Homo sapiens: one gene and its partners. The protein of the gene in region 1 purifies or fractionates together with the protein of each later gene. This does not show direct contact. Each region holds a gene or a part of one and is shown in the gene's direction. Other genes may lie near its edges.

The links. The genes of interacting proteins can lie anywhere in the genome.
Region 2: the proteins of XPNPEP1 (region 1) and API5 fractionate together in Homo sapiens (co-fractionation; one large-scale study listed by BioGRID). This does not show direct contact.
Region 3: the proteins of XPNPEP1 (region 1) and IRGQ fractionate together in Homo sapiens (co-fractionation; one large-scale study listed by BioGRID). This does not show direct contact.
Region 4: the proteins of XPNPEP1 (region 1) and PEX7 purify together in Homo sapiens (co-immunoprecipitation; one large-scale study listed by IntAct). This does not show direct contact.

What each region holds. Positions count from the first base shown.
Region 1 is NC_000010.11:109,913,512-109,917,011, reverse strand, and holds part of XPNPEP1 (xaa-Pro aminopeptidase 1), read left to right. Parts: intron 1-1,912; coding exon 1,913-2,001; intron 2,002-3,500. UniProt on the Homo sapiens protein: Metalloaminopeptidase that catalyzes the removal of a penultimate prolyl residue from the N-termini of peptides, such as Arg-Pro-Pro. Contributes to the degradation of bradykinin.
Region 2 is NC_000011.10:43,325,496-43,328,995, forward strand, and holds part of API5 (apoptosis inhibitor 5), read left to right. Parts: intron 1-1,011; coding exon 1,012-1,116; intron 1,117-2,293; coding exon 2,294-2,383; intron 2,384-3,216; coding exon 3,217-3,398; intron 3,399-3,500. UniProt on the Homo sapiens protein: Antiapoptotic factor that may have a role in protein assembly. Negatively regulates ACIN1. By binding to ACIN1, it suppresses ACIN1 cleavage from CASP3 and ACIN1-mediated DNA fragmentation. Also known to efficiently suppress E2F1-induced apoptosis.
Region 3 is NC_000019.10:43,589,635-43,593,134, reverse strand, and holds part of IRGQ (immunity-related GTPase family Q protein), read left to right. Parts: coding exon 1-1,109; 3' UTR 1,110-3,500. UniProt on the Homo sapiens protein: Autophagy receptor that specifically promotes clearance of misfolded MHC class I molecules by targeting them to the lysosome for degradation.
Region 4 is NC_000006.12:136,867,592-136,871,091, forward strand, and holds part of PEX7 (peroxisomal biogenesis factor 7), read left to right. Parts: intron 1-2,298; coding exon 2,299-2,412; intron 2,413-3,500. UniProt on the Homo sapiens protein: Receptor required for the peroxisomal import of proteins containing a C-terminal PTS2-type peroxisomal targeting signal. Specifically binds to cargo proteins containing a PTS2 peroxisomal targeting signal in the cytosol.

The sequences.
Region 1 (3,500 bases):
ATGATGTTAGCTGTAGGTTTTGTAATAACTTTTGTCAGGTTGAGGAATTTTTCTTCTAGTTTGCTGAGTACTTTTAACTTGAAGGGGCATTGGATTTTGTCGTGCTTTTTCTGCGTTTGTTGAGAAGACCATGTAGATTTTGTTCTTTATTCTATTGATATGGCCTGTTATAATAATTGATTTTTCATATATTGAGCCAACCTTGTATTCCTGGGATAAGACCCACTTGGCGATGATGATCCTTTTTATATTGTTCTAGATTCCGTTTGCTGGTATTTTGTTGAGGATATTTGTATTTATATTTTAGAAGACATATTGGGGTGTCTTACTTTTTTATGAAAGAATAATATGTTTACTCTCGTTAAGAACATCCCATTCTGTCCAGTAAAACTAAAGTCACAGCCATATGAAAGCAGGCCTAGAGTCATTGGTAAAGCTGCCTGGTTATCTGGTTCTTACCGTGTGGTAGACTGAGCTAATGTGTCCCTCTCTGTCTTTACCAACATGTAAAAATGCGGTTAAATTATAACTTAATTGAGTTCATAGCTGAGTAAAATTCAAAACCTTTTCTATGGCCCCACAGTAGGCCCCCTGGTGCCTCAATGATGTTGTCTCTGAACCACTTACCTCCCCATCCCCTGATACAATCACACTGCGCTGACCTTCTTGCTTTTCCTCAGGTAAACTAGACATACTCCTGCCTCATGGCCTTTGCACTTGCTGTTGTCCTGGAACATTGTTCCCCTAGCCGTTCACATGGCTTGCTTCCTCACTCTTTTTAGGTCTGTGTTAAAATGTTGTCTGTTATAATAGAGGCTGTCCCTGGCTACCCCATATGAAATAATCCTTCCCCTTACCTCCTTGATGCTTTCTTCCCCTTGCTGTGCTTTACTTTTTTTCACAAAACACGTTCTTATTACTTGACGTATTGTGTACTTGTTTTGTGTCTGTTGCCTTCTCTTCCCTGTCTTCTGCCCATCCCCCTGCCTTGCCCCATCTTAATTTGTTAAAGTCAGAGATCTTGTCTGTTTTGTTCACTGTTGTGTCCAGAATAGGGCCTGGATTATGGAAGATTTTTCAATAAATATTTGTTGACTGAATGAACTTGAAAGAAAGAGAAATCCTCAAGTGCCAAAAATGTAGAGGGAACCTAACGCCTGAGTGGTATGCTAGTAACCTGAGCCTGGGAAAGTTACCAGATGCAGATATAGACCTTCATGCCTGGTGTCCAGGGCATTAGACTATCCCCATATGGGAACAAGAAGTTTGTGTGTAAATCTTCTAGCTAATAAATTAATGTGAAAGTCTTAGAAGCAAACAATAACAGAACTGCTTGTACAAACCAGGACCCATCACATTCTCATAGATAAATAGCCTCTATTGAAGATAAGCTCTTAATAAAAGATCACAAAACGCAGAAGGAATGAACCACCAAGAGGGAGAGGCAGCAGACCTAGCAAACATGAGGGTTAGTCTCCCAAGATCTATTTGAAAGTATGGGAGAAATTATAAAATAAGGGCCTACAGTAATGAAGGCACAAAGAGAAGGCATAGAAACCAGAGTGCAAGAATAGGACACCATAAAGAAAGAACGGGCAGATGTGAAAAAGAACCAAATAGAACTTGTGTAAGGAAAAAACATTGAAAATAAGTCTTCTTAGTCTAGTTAAATAGGAGGTGTGAGAATTTATGAACTAGAAGCTGCAACTGAGAAGGTTAACCTGCCATGGGGATGTTTTACACCTGCAAGTTTTACATCAAACTTTTATTTATTCTGCCACTGATAATGGGGGTGAAAGTTCTTCTGACTCATGTTAGAGAACTGCTAAGTTAAGCGATGCCTCCTCTAACTGAGCCTTGCCACGTTTATTGTGGTCAAAGTCTGCAACTTCCTGTTCTTTCTCTCCTTAAGGGTGAATCACCAGGATTTTCAACTGAGAAATTTAAGAATAATTGAACCTAACGAGGTGACACACTCAGGAGACACAGGTGTGGAAACAGGTAATAATTTTGTCTGGAAATTAGATGGAACATCTGTAAAGGATTTTAGATCTCCACCCCAACCCCAGGTTGGGTGAGAAGAAGAGGGTAAGGAATTAGTAACAGATCATGACTGGGGGTTAGTATCTGGAAGTTAAAAACCATTTTATTTTTTGGCTTCCTAAGTGGTTGGTTACTGTTTCTATATATTTACCATTTTTTTTTTTTTTTTTTGAGACGGAGTCTCGCCCTTGGTCACCCAGCCTGGAGTGCAATGGCGTGATCTCGGCTCACTGCAACCTCCGTCTCCCGGGTTCAAGCGATTCTCCTGCCTCAGCCTCCGGAGTAGCTGGGATTACAGGCGCCCGACACCACGCCCAGCTAATTTTGTATTTTTAGTAGAGATGGGGTTTCTCCATGTTGGCCAGGCTGGTCTTGAACTCCCGACCTCAGGTGATCTGCCCGCCTTGGCCTCCCAAAGTGCTGGGATTACAGGCATGAGCCACTGCGCCTGGCCATTACCATTTTTTTTTAAGGTAGTAAGTTAGAGAATTACAACTTTTTTTTTGTTGTTTGTTTTTTTCGTTTTCCATTTTTGTCAGAGTGGTGGTGGTGGAGAAGGAGATAGGTTATTATGGAAAATGTTCTCTATTTCTCTAATATAGTCCTTCATTATCTTAGAAATTAGCTTTCAATTTTGATCATAAGATTGCAAAATGAGAAAAGCTTGTAATATATTATTGTCCTTTATAAATTGAGTGTGCATTTAGGAAAGTCTTTTTGGGAAATATTTCTTGGCTGTCCCTTCTCCCCAGAACTGGTTAATTGTCTGATGGGTTGCCAGAAACCTGAATTCTGAAAAGTGGTGTATTACTGTATTTCTATCCCAGTAAGCCAGTACTGCTCTAACGACTACTAAGGAGAACCATGTGTTTTTTTTTTTTTTAGCTGACTGAAAAATTGATCTCTTGAAGTACATAAGAAACCATGCCCGTCTAATCTCTGTTTGGAAGATCAGTGCTATAATTGCATGCAATTTTAGATCCTTTTTCTTTAAAAAATATAGATGTATCCAACACATTTTGGACCATATTAGGAGGTAGCAGAGGAAGGAGGAAAAAGAGAAAGTAAAGAAAGGAAAAAAGTGATGGAATCATTAAACTTAGAGTTGGAAGATAACTTCTTTTTCTTTTTGTAATGTATGAGGAAATAGAGGTTAGGTAGCTTCAGTTGCCTGAGGTTGTAGATCCCAGCTGGAAACTGGAGCTCACTTGTTTTGCTTCTGTTGGTCTTAGAACACTTTAAGGCTCTATTATGTCCCCCAGCTAATATGGTGTAATAGAGCATGGACTTGGGAATTGCATAGACCTTGAGTCCCGGTTCCTGATGAACCAGCTGACTTTGGGCAAGTACTTAACTCCTTTTAACTCCTGTTCCTTTATGTGTAAAATGAGAATAGTGAAACCTCCCTTGGAGGATTGTTGTGAGAATTAGCCACTAATGTATGTAAAGCCCTTAGC
Region 2 (3,500 bases), on another chromosome or scaffold:
TAATAGCAGAAACAATAGCCAACATCATCGATATCTCAGTTGGTTCAGCTTATTCAATTCCGACTGAAAAATTGAAGTTTAACAAACTTCCTACTGATGAGTGTCAAAACCATTGCACTCAGATTAGCTGCAGACAAGAACAGAGCTTTCAGTGGAAATTGTAAACAAGTGGGATCAAGATCCTGAAGCATGTCTTTGAAGAATGGGAACAGGAGGTGAAACATGGCTTTAGCAGTGCAATTCTGAAGACAAAACACAGTCAAAGCAATGGCTGCCAGGAAGTGAAAAGGGCCCAGTCCAAGCAAAAAGAGACCAGTTAAGAGGAAGGGCTATGGCAGTTTTTTGGGATGCTCAAGACATTTTGCTGGTTGACATTCTGGAGGGCTAAAGAATAATGTCTGCTTATTATGAGCTTGTTTTGAGAAAGTTGGCCAAAGATTGAGCAGGAAAACGCCTAGGAAAGCATCACCAGAGTTCTCCACCGCCACAGTGCTCCTGCTCATTCCTCTCATCAAACAGGGACAATTTTTTAAGAGTTTTGATGAGGAATCATTAGGCATCCACCTTAAAGTCCTTATTTGGGCCCTTCTGATTTCTTTTTGTTGCCTAATCTTAAAAAACATCTTTAAAGGGCACCCACATTTCTTTGGTTAATAGTATAAAAAAGACTGCATTGACATGGTTAAGTTCCCAGGACCCTCAGTTGTTCAGAGATGACTGGTATCATTACCTGCAAAAGTGTCTTGACCTTGATGGAGCTTATGTTGATAAATAAAGTTTATATTTTTTATTCTTTATCTTTTTATTCCATTTTTCCATGAACTTATTGAAGCCCCTTCGTAGATCACCTATTGAGGTTATATCTGGGGCATGCTGGGGTGTGCACTATATCGTATTTGTAGTCAGAATACTTGATGCTGTAGCGCTCAGCATTTATTGAATGAAATTCTGCTATAATATTTGAGCGAATATTTGTTTTTCGACAATGCATTTTCTTTGGATTTCTTACAGAAAAATGTCCATTCCACAAGGTTTGTGACATATTTCTGTGAGCAGGTTCTCCCTAACCTCGGTACCTTGACTACCCCAGTGGAAGGTCTTGATATACAGTTGGAGGTAAGCAAAAATTTCAGCTTTAGCACTGATAAGGCATTCTTATATTTTAACAAAAATGTAAACCACTAACTTAGATCCGATTTCTAAGGGAGCAGTTTAAATGTCTGGTAATGGCCAGCCAGTAATCTCCCTAGACCAGAATTAATTGCATTAGGACTGCTTCATGGATTCAATTAAAGTTTGCTGCAATGGGAAAGCCTTACCTGTAGTTTTATTATAGTCAGTCTCTACTTTTGTAGCCTTAATATTTTTAAATAAGGTGTTTAATTCATTCATTTCTATCCATAACTGACAGAGCCAATTTTAAACTGGATTAACACAAAATATCCTTTATTCCTTCTTCAATAGAATTCACTACCCCTCCCAACTTTGTATCTCAACTGTAATGTATGTAAACATTTTTTCACAGCATCTGTAATACTTTACATTTGTTTATAATCTCTCCCTACATTTAATCTGATTCACCTCTGTATCCCCAGAATCTGGCACAAAACTTGATTTTGAATCAAGCACCCAATAGTGATTATTGAATTGGACTGAAATATGGAAATGCGTGTGCCATTTCCCTCATGGGTCTTTGGGATAGAGAAGAATCTCACTGTGCACTGACAAGGTAGTTTGCTTCAAATGTGCTGGGCTAGGCCCATCAGACTGGGATTGGGAAATGCAGGAATGAACCTTGAGAATAGTGGTCATTACCAATATTTTGAGTAAGTATCCAGAGACTAAATTTAACAGGAAATGAGGCCCACCTTAACCATGAGTAATTAGTTCTTAGCTGTTGAGAGTTCTTACTAAGTGTGTCTTTATAGTTAATATATTTATCATTTTTGCCTTGCAATTAGCACAATCATTAACCTGTAGCAGAAAGTGTCGTATGTATTATTTTCCATACTTCTTCTCACAGATATATTGGAAATCATGGGATCTGGGTTTTAGGGTCTGCCCTGCCACTTACACCCTGTGACTTTGTCGAGTCACATAATCTCTGACCTTTACTTTCCTTCACAGTAAAATGTTGGGCTGCATCTATCTCTAAGGTTTTCTTCCATTTCAAATGTTATGATTCTGTGAAAACATAATTGAAAATAAAGTCTTAAATCGTTATCTAGAATTACTCTCATTTCATAACCCTTGCTTATTCAAAAAAACAGTAATAGTGAATTGTGTGTTTTAGGTATTGAAATTGTTGGCGGAGATGAGTTCATTTTGTGGTGACATGGAAAAACTAGAAACAAATTTAAGGAAACTATTTGATAAGTTATTGGTAAGAACTTTTTCCTTTCCTTATGGGATAGTCAGTATATAGCTCAAAGTCTAATTTATTATTAATTTCTAGATTACAAGAACCAGTTTTTGAAATTTCAATTAAACAATAATCCTAATAAGTATTGTTAGCTTCCTAGGCCACATGTTGTTGTCTACTTTGTTTTAATCTTGGTGTTTCTTATAATTAGGGAGAAAATAGGCCATCTGATAAAATCATTATCAGCATCACTGAGTGATTTTCTTATTTGATGTATTTGTATAACTAACACAGTGATAAGCATTAGGTCCTTAGCATGAATTGAGTCATCAACATCTGGCACTCGTCCAGATGTAACTTACTGGGTTGTTATAGCACTGATACTGAATGCCATTGGCAGTACTTCACTTGTAATGAGTCAGTACTTAAACAATATGGACTTACGTTCAGAAAATATTTTTGTAGTAAGCATAGTATAGTTGTTAAGAGCATCAGCATTTGATGTCAAATCTAGATTGAATTCTGACTCTTTAGTTTATTAACTTTGTTACCATGGGAAGGTTACCCTAACTCTCAGAGCATCAGTGCCTTTATCTGTAAGTGCCTAATAAATGATAGCTACATTAATCTTCATTATTAATAATAGCAGCTGTAACAGCAGCTGTAACAGGTTAATATGGAGCGTTGACAGGCTAGAGCATTGATCCAGTAAGTAAAAAAGAAATCCAAATGTCTGGTTTTGGTAGTTTTTAATGCTCCATGCCTTAAAAACATGCACTGTAATTCCCTGAATATCTGTTTATAATTTGAATATGTAGAACAGATTGCAAAATCTGTATATTTTTCTCTCTTAGGAATACATGCCCCTCCCTCCAGAAGAGGCAGAAAATGGAGAGAATGCTGGTAATGAAGAACCCAAGCTACAGTTCAGTTATGTGGAATGTTTGTTGTACAGTTTTCACCAGTTGGGCCGAAAACTTCCAGATTTCTTAACAGCCAAACTGAATGCAGAAAAGCTCAAAGATTTCAAAATCAGGTGATATATGATTGAGGTGGCTCAATCCTTGGCAAAGGTGGTAGCTATCCTGAAGTTCCTTGGGTTTTGCTTTTGTTCTATGAGAGCTCCCCATCCTGCCTT
Region 3 (3,500 bases), on another chromosome or scaffold:
CTTCGGTCCCCACAGCACCCACTCCCTTCCCAGCCCCAGAGCGCCCGAATGTGGTGCTCTGGACCGTGCCTCTGGGCCACACGGGCACTGCCACCACCGCGGCCGCCGCCTCTCACCCAACGCACTACGACGCCCTCATCCTCGTCACCCCTGGGGCCCCCACTGAGAAGGACTGGGCCCAGGTCCAGGCCTTGCTGCTACCAGATGCGCCTCTTGTCTGCGTGCGCACAGACGGCGAGGGCGAGGATCCGGAGTGTCTGGGAGAAGGCAAGATGGAGAATCCCAAGGGCGAGAGCTTAAAGAACGCAGGTGGAGGGGGATTGGAGAATGCACTCAGTAAGGGAAGGGAGAAATGTAGCGCTGGATCGCAGAAAGCAGGCAGCGGGGAAGGTCCTGGGAAAGCTGGCAGCGAGGGTTTGCAGCAGGTTGTCGGCATGAAGAAATCAGGTGGTGGCGACTCAGAGCGGGCCGCTGCGTTAAGCCCGGAGGACGAGACGTGGGAGGTGCTGGAGGAGGCGCCGCCGCCAGTGTTCCCCCTACGGCCTGGCGGACTCCCAGGGCTATGCGAATGGCTGCGGCGAGCGCTCCCCCCAGCCCAGGCAGGGGCACTGCTGCTGGCGTTGCCACCAGCATCTCCCAGCGCTGCCCGAACCAAGGCTGCGGCGTTGCGAGCCGGGGCGTGGAGGCCAGCTCTGCTGGCTAGTCTGGCGGCGGCGGCGGCACCACTCCCAGGGCTGGGCTGGGCATGCGACGTGGCACTTCTGCGGGGTCAGCTGGCGGAGTGGCGACGGGGCCTGGGGCTGGAACCCACGGCACTGGCTCGACGTGAGCGTGCCCTGGGCCTGGCTTCTGGAGAGCTGGCAGCGCGCGCTCATTTCCCAGGCCCGGTGACGCGCGCCGAGGTGGAAGCAAGACTGGGCGCCTGGGCGGGCGAGGGCACTGCTGGGGGCGCAGCACTGGGGGCTCTCTCCTTCCTGTGGCCTGCGGGTGGTGCAGCGGCGACAGGTGGCCTGGGCTACCGAGCGGCTCACGGCGTCCTGCTGCAGGCTCTCGATGAGATGCGGGCTGATGCTGAGGCTGTGCTGGCACCCCCTGAGCCTGCCCAGTGAGGAGTGGGAGGGGGCTTGGGAGTCCAGACTCTGACAGGGGATGCCTGGGCTTAATCCTGGGTGCTTGAAGGGGATGTGGACTCTTGACTTCCAGCTGGGATGTGTGACTTCTTATCACCTGGATTCAGAGAGTCTGGGGGACAGGAATCCTGATTTTTTTTTTTTTTTTTCTTTTTTTTGTGAGACGAAGTCTCTTGTTGCCCAGGCTGGAGTGCAATGGCGCGACCTCGGCTCACTGCAACCTCCGCCTCCCGGGTTCAAGCGATTCTCCTGCCTCAGCGTCCGGAGTAGCTGGGATTACAGGTGCCTGCCACCACACCTGGCTAATTTTTGTATTTTTAGTAGAGACGGGGTTTCACCATGTTGGCCAGGCTGGCCTCGAACTCCTGACCTCAGGCGATCGACCCGCTCCGGCCTCCCAAAGTGCTAGGATTACAGGCGTGAGCCACCGCCCCTGGCCAGGAATCCTGATACCTTTGGGAACCATGGTGAATGACATCTAGACCCTTCTGTCCTGAAGGGAGTTGGTGGCCCAGACTCTAGCAGGGACTATGTCTTTGTCTCCTAGGGAGTAGAAACTGGAGTTACTGGATGTTTAGTCCTCCAGGGAGGCTGGTAGAAGTCCTGTTTCCTAATTGGTGGGGAGGTGTCCATGACTGGGACCTGAACTCCAGTATAGGGGAGGGAGACCTGAGCGCCCCAGGGAGCTGGAACTCTTGGGCTTCAGAGCCTCAGAGGGAAACAGGGTCTACATTTCTCTGGGAGAAAAAGCCTGCACACAGGTCCCCAAGGAGCAGTGGGCTTTGAATCTTGATGGGGTGGCGGAGGCCCCTGGGGTCTGAGACTTCCGGGGTTCTAAGATGGCTGTGGACCTTGGTTCCTAAATATTGGGTAAGGGGAGGTCTGCATCTGGAGGAGGGATCGGGGGCTTGTGCGAGAAAGCTGGAGACTTCTTGATCTCTCCTGGGGAGTGGATGGGTTTCTATAATTGCCCTCCAAAAGCATGTAGGGAGGGTGGTCCCACAAAAATGAGGTGAGGTGGGTAAGAGGTCTGGGCATGGTGGGCTCTGGGAGTAGCCAGGGACCAGGAATGAGGTCTTTTGGGTGTGGAAGGGCAGTAAAGCATACCTCAGAGACAGCTCCTCCAAACCTTGTATTGGGATCCCGGCAACTGCCTCTGTGAGTGTGACTGGGAAGGGATATGACTGCCTTCATCTTCTAGGTGCTGAGCAATTCAGGTGATCTCTGGGGAGTCTGTTTCTCTGTCTCTTTTCTTTAGGAGTTTCTATCTTTTTTTGGCCTTTTTCTCCTGGTATTTAACCATAACCCTTTATGGCCTTGGTGTTTTGTGCACCTTCCTTTTCAGAAGAGCAGCTGTACTGCTGCACTGGTCCAAACACTTCTGTATGGACACCTCGGGTATCCCCAAGAGGCTCTGCTTTCTGATGTACATAGAGGGTGCTGCATTGAGCCAGGGGCCCACCAAATGGGTGGTCAGGCACTTGAGACCATGGGAATATGCCAGGAGTGAATGAAGCAAAGGCAGAAACCACAGTGCCTGGAATGTTCTAGGCTGCTAGCCACATGTGGGGGAAAAGTTGCAGGTTACAGAATTCTTCAGTGTCAAAAACAGAAAAGGAGGATCTGAGAATCCAAGCGATAGAATCCCTTTTGTCGTAGACAGAAAGAGCAAAGTCCAGAGAGGGCAGGCTTGAGGCCCAACAGCACACAGTAAGGCCCTGTGGGTCTGGCCCTTGCCTATTCTCATTCACTGCCCCTTCCCACTCCTGTCCAGCCTGATAGACTTTCCTTCTTTTTTTTTTTGAAATGGAGTCTCACCTTGTCACCCAGTCTGGAGTACAGGGATGTGATGACTGTAGCTGAGATGACAGGCATGTGCCACCACACCTGGCTAATTTTTGTAGTTTAGTAGAGAAGGGATTTCACCCTGTTGGTCAGGCTGGTCTCGAACTCCTGACCTCAGGTGATCCACCCGACTCAGACTCCCAAAGTGCTGGGATTACAGGTGTGAGCCATCATGGCCGCCTGACTCTTTCTGATGCCTGAGTGGCTACCTTGAGTCCTGCCTGGGGACCCATGCACCTGCTGTTCTCTTTCCTTCAAGGCTCTACTCACAACTTCCTGTTCTACTCTCAAACCTTCCTGTGACGGGCTCAGTCAGATCTCAGCTCACGTATCCCCTCAGAGAGGACTTCCCCTCCCTGACCACCCTATCTGAAGTAGCTCACATTCCCCCACTATTCATTTCGGCCAGTTGAGTTTCCTTGTAGCAATTATTACTGTCAAAAATGATCTTATTTATTTACCTGTTTATTGGCTTTTGACCCGTTGCCTGTCCTGTTCTCTGTTGTTTCCCCAGCATCTAGAACA
Region 4 (3,500 bases), on another chromosome or scaffold:
TTTAAGTTTTGTTATTATGAAGAGTCAAAAAGTAAAAAAAGCCAGGCATGGTGGCAGGCGCCTGTAGTCCCAGCTACTCGGGAGGCTGAGGCAGGGGAATCGCTTGAACTGGGAGGCAGAGGCTGCAGTGAGCCAAGATCACGCCACTGCACTCCAGCCTGGCAACAGAGCAAGACTCCATCTCAAAACAACAACAACAACAACAACAAAAAACTTTAAAAAAAATTAGAAAGTTTATGAAGCAAAAAATTACAGTGAGCTAAGGTTAATTTATTATTGAAGAAAGGAAATAAAAAATAAATTTAGTGTACAGTAATGTTCTAGGCCTTTCCATTCACTCACTACTCATTCACTCACTGACTCACCCAGAGTAATTTCCAGTTTTGTAAGCTCCATTCATGGTAAGGACCCTACTACCATTTTTTATCTTCCATACTATATTTTTACTATACCTTTTCTATGTTTAGATACAGAAAGCCTTACAATTGTGTTACAGTAGCCTACAGTATTCAGTACAGTAACATGCTGGACAGGCATGTAGCCTAGGAGCAATAGGCTGTTTCATCTAGCCTGGGTGTGTACTAGGCTGTACCACCTAGGTTTGTGTAAGTACACTCTGTGATGTTCACGCAAAGATGAAATTGCCTAATGCCACATTTCTGAGAGCATATCCCCATCATTAAGTGATGCATGACTGTATTTATGTCCCTGAAGTGGTCTGTTGACCGTGACAAATAGGTAAAATGTATGCTTTGTTTTTTTCCCAGTTTTAAATTAATTAAAGTTAAAAGAACATTGTATTGGCAGAGTTCTTTAAATAAAAATAAGTAAAATAAGTTAAAATATAGTATATATACAATGATATTACTCAATCTAAACATTTCAATGCTGATGACTATAGTTTCAAACTCATAAATGAATGTTTCATATTGGAAAATTAATTATGGCCTGTATGTTAGATGTTTGGGAACTCTAAAGAAAGATGCTGATAGACATTTGAGAGTGATTTACAAAAATTATTTTCTAATAACTGAAACTTTTCTTCAAATTAGCTTAAACTAAAGCCCAACATAGTCAGACAATGTTAGGTTGGTGCAAGAGTAGTTGCAGTTTTTGCCATTACTTTCAATGGCAAAAACTGCAACTACTTTTGCGCCAACTTAAATCCATTGCTGTTCTGAGTTATGTGGGGTGGACTGAGTGTGGACCCAGCACTTGTCCTATTCAGCCAGGACCTCTGGGTTCACTTGGGGCTCTAGATAGCAGAATTTGTAAAGCCGGAATAGATAAGAGACTCACCACTATTTGATTACATTCTTGGATATGATTAGATATCGTATTAAGAATTTTGGTCCAAGAGAGTTGGAAACAATGATTAATTTAGATTTAGAGAACATGGAAAAATTTAATTCATAGCCTTTGCTTTTTCAGATGTGCCTAAATGAACAGACCTCTTGCCTTTTAATGCCTGGAAAAACCTCAGAGTATGTTGAAACCCTTTTTGTTTGTTTGTTTTTTAGAGATGAGGTCTCACTGTTGCCCAGGCTGGTCTCAAACTCCTGGGCTCAAGTGATCCACCGGCCTTGGCCTCCCAAAGTGCTGGGATTATAGGAGTGAACCACCGCACCCAGCCTTGAAAACCTTTTTTAAATTTTTATTTTTTTTTTAGAGACAGGGTCTCGCTGTGTCATCCAGGCTGAGGTACAGTGGGGTGATCATACCACACTGTAGCCTCTGACTCTTGGGCTCACACAATCCTCCTGCCTCACTCAGCCTCTCAAGTAGCTAAAATTACAGGTGTGTGTTACCACGCCTGGCTAATTTTTTGGGTAGACAGGGTCTTGCTTTATTGTCCATGCTGGTCTCAAGTTCCTGGCCTCAAGTGATCCTCCCACCTTTGCCTCCCAAGGTGCTGGAATTCCAGGGAAAACCTTTTGAAGAGAAAGCTGGGCTCATTTGTCAGATAAAATTTTTAATCCCCTATGTATTTACTGCCGCTTCTAAAGCTGAATTAGAAAATCCACAATGCTGTTTGGAACTATGCCTTTTCCAGCTGTCTGTAGTGTTCCATCGTGTACATAAAGCATATTGAGTTCTTTTTCTCACAAGTCATATTAGTTTTTTGCTATTAATGTCTATGTTGATTCCTGTCTATACTTGTTATACAACTTCTCAAAAATGACTCCTTGGTTCATATTAAATAGTTATCAGAAAGCAGATGTTGTTTCTAGTAGGAAAGCCTGCATACTGTTTAATTGCAAAGATGTCACAGTTTATGTTTCTCTGAATTGTTTTTAGAATTTGCTGGTGACCGGGGCGGTTGACTGTAGTTTGAGAGGCTGGGACTTAAGGAATGTACGACAACCAGTGTTTGAACTTCTTGGTCATACCTATGCTATTAGGAGGGTGAAAGTAAGTTTTCATCTTTTCTTTTATATGTAGAATAAAATTATATAAATATAATCAATGAAGTGTATATTAAAAAGTGTTCTGGGTTTAGGGATTGGAGTTACTAATTCTTTTTTATATGTGTTTTTGTTACCCAATTAATTAGTAGTGAAAGCTAAAATTAGGCAAAAATATTTGAATAATGATTGAATGAATTTGGGCAATGTAGACATTCAATACTTAAGGTTAAATAAAAATCTTTTTCTCATTCTTTCACCTCCAATCTGTTTTTCCTTTAATATATTTTTTTAACTATAGTAATTCACTTTTAGTATTATGTTCTTTATAAGTTTCTAATTAGCGAGAGTCTCTACTTTGTTGAAACAGATGTAAAGAGATGGTTAATTCTTTCTTTTTCCTAACATGATAACATACATGACTGTTCACAGATGTTTGGGATATAGAAAGTTTTCTACTCTGTGAACAGCAGAGGATGAGGTAAATTTTTAATGATGGTCTCAGTAAATTTATCTGGGTTATAAGATGACTTAGGTTGGTTTCCTGGCTTTTATATTTAGGCAGGTTCTGCTAAATGACTGTGGAAAACATCTTATTAAGTGACATCTCCCAATTTCATCCTTTTGTTTTTTTACGTTAAGGATAAAAAAGTACCTTATTGATTATTTTAATAAGGTAATTATGTTATTCCTACTATTTAAAAAATTCTAAATTTTTTTTTCTTTTTTTTTGAGATGGAGTCTTGCCCTGTCACCCAGACACGATCTCAGCTCACTGCAACCTCTGCCTTCTGGGTTCAAGCTGTTCTCCTGCCTCAGCCTACTGAGTAGCTGGGACTACAGGTGTGCACCACCATGCCCGGCTAATTTTTTTGTATTTTTAGTGGAGACAGGGTTTCACAGTGTTGGCCAGGCTGGTCTTGAACTCCTGACCTCAAGTGATCTGCCTGCCTTAGCCTTCCACAGTGCTGGGATTACAGGCTGAGTCACTGTGCCTGGCCAAAAATTCTAAATTTTTAGTTAAGTTAATATTTTAAGTTTCTCTGGCTGCAATGCAACATAGGAGACACAGTGCTCTGTTTTATTTTTTAATAA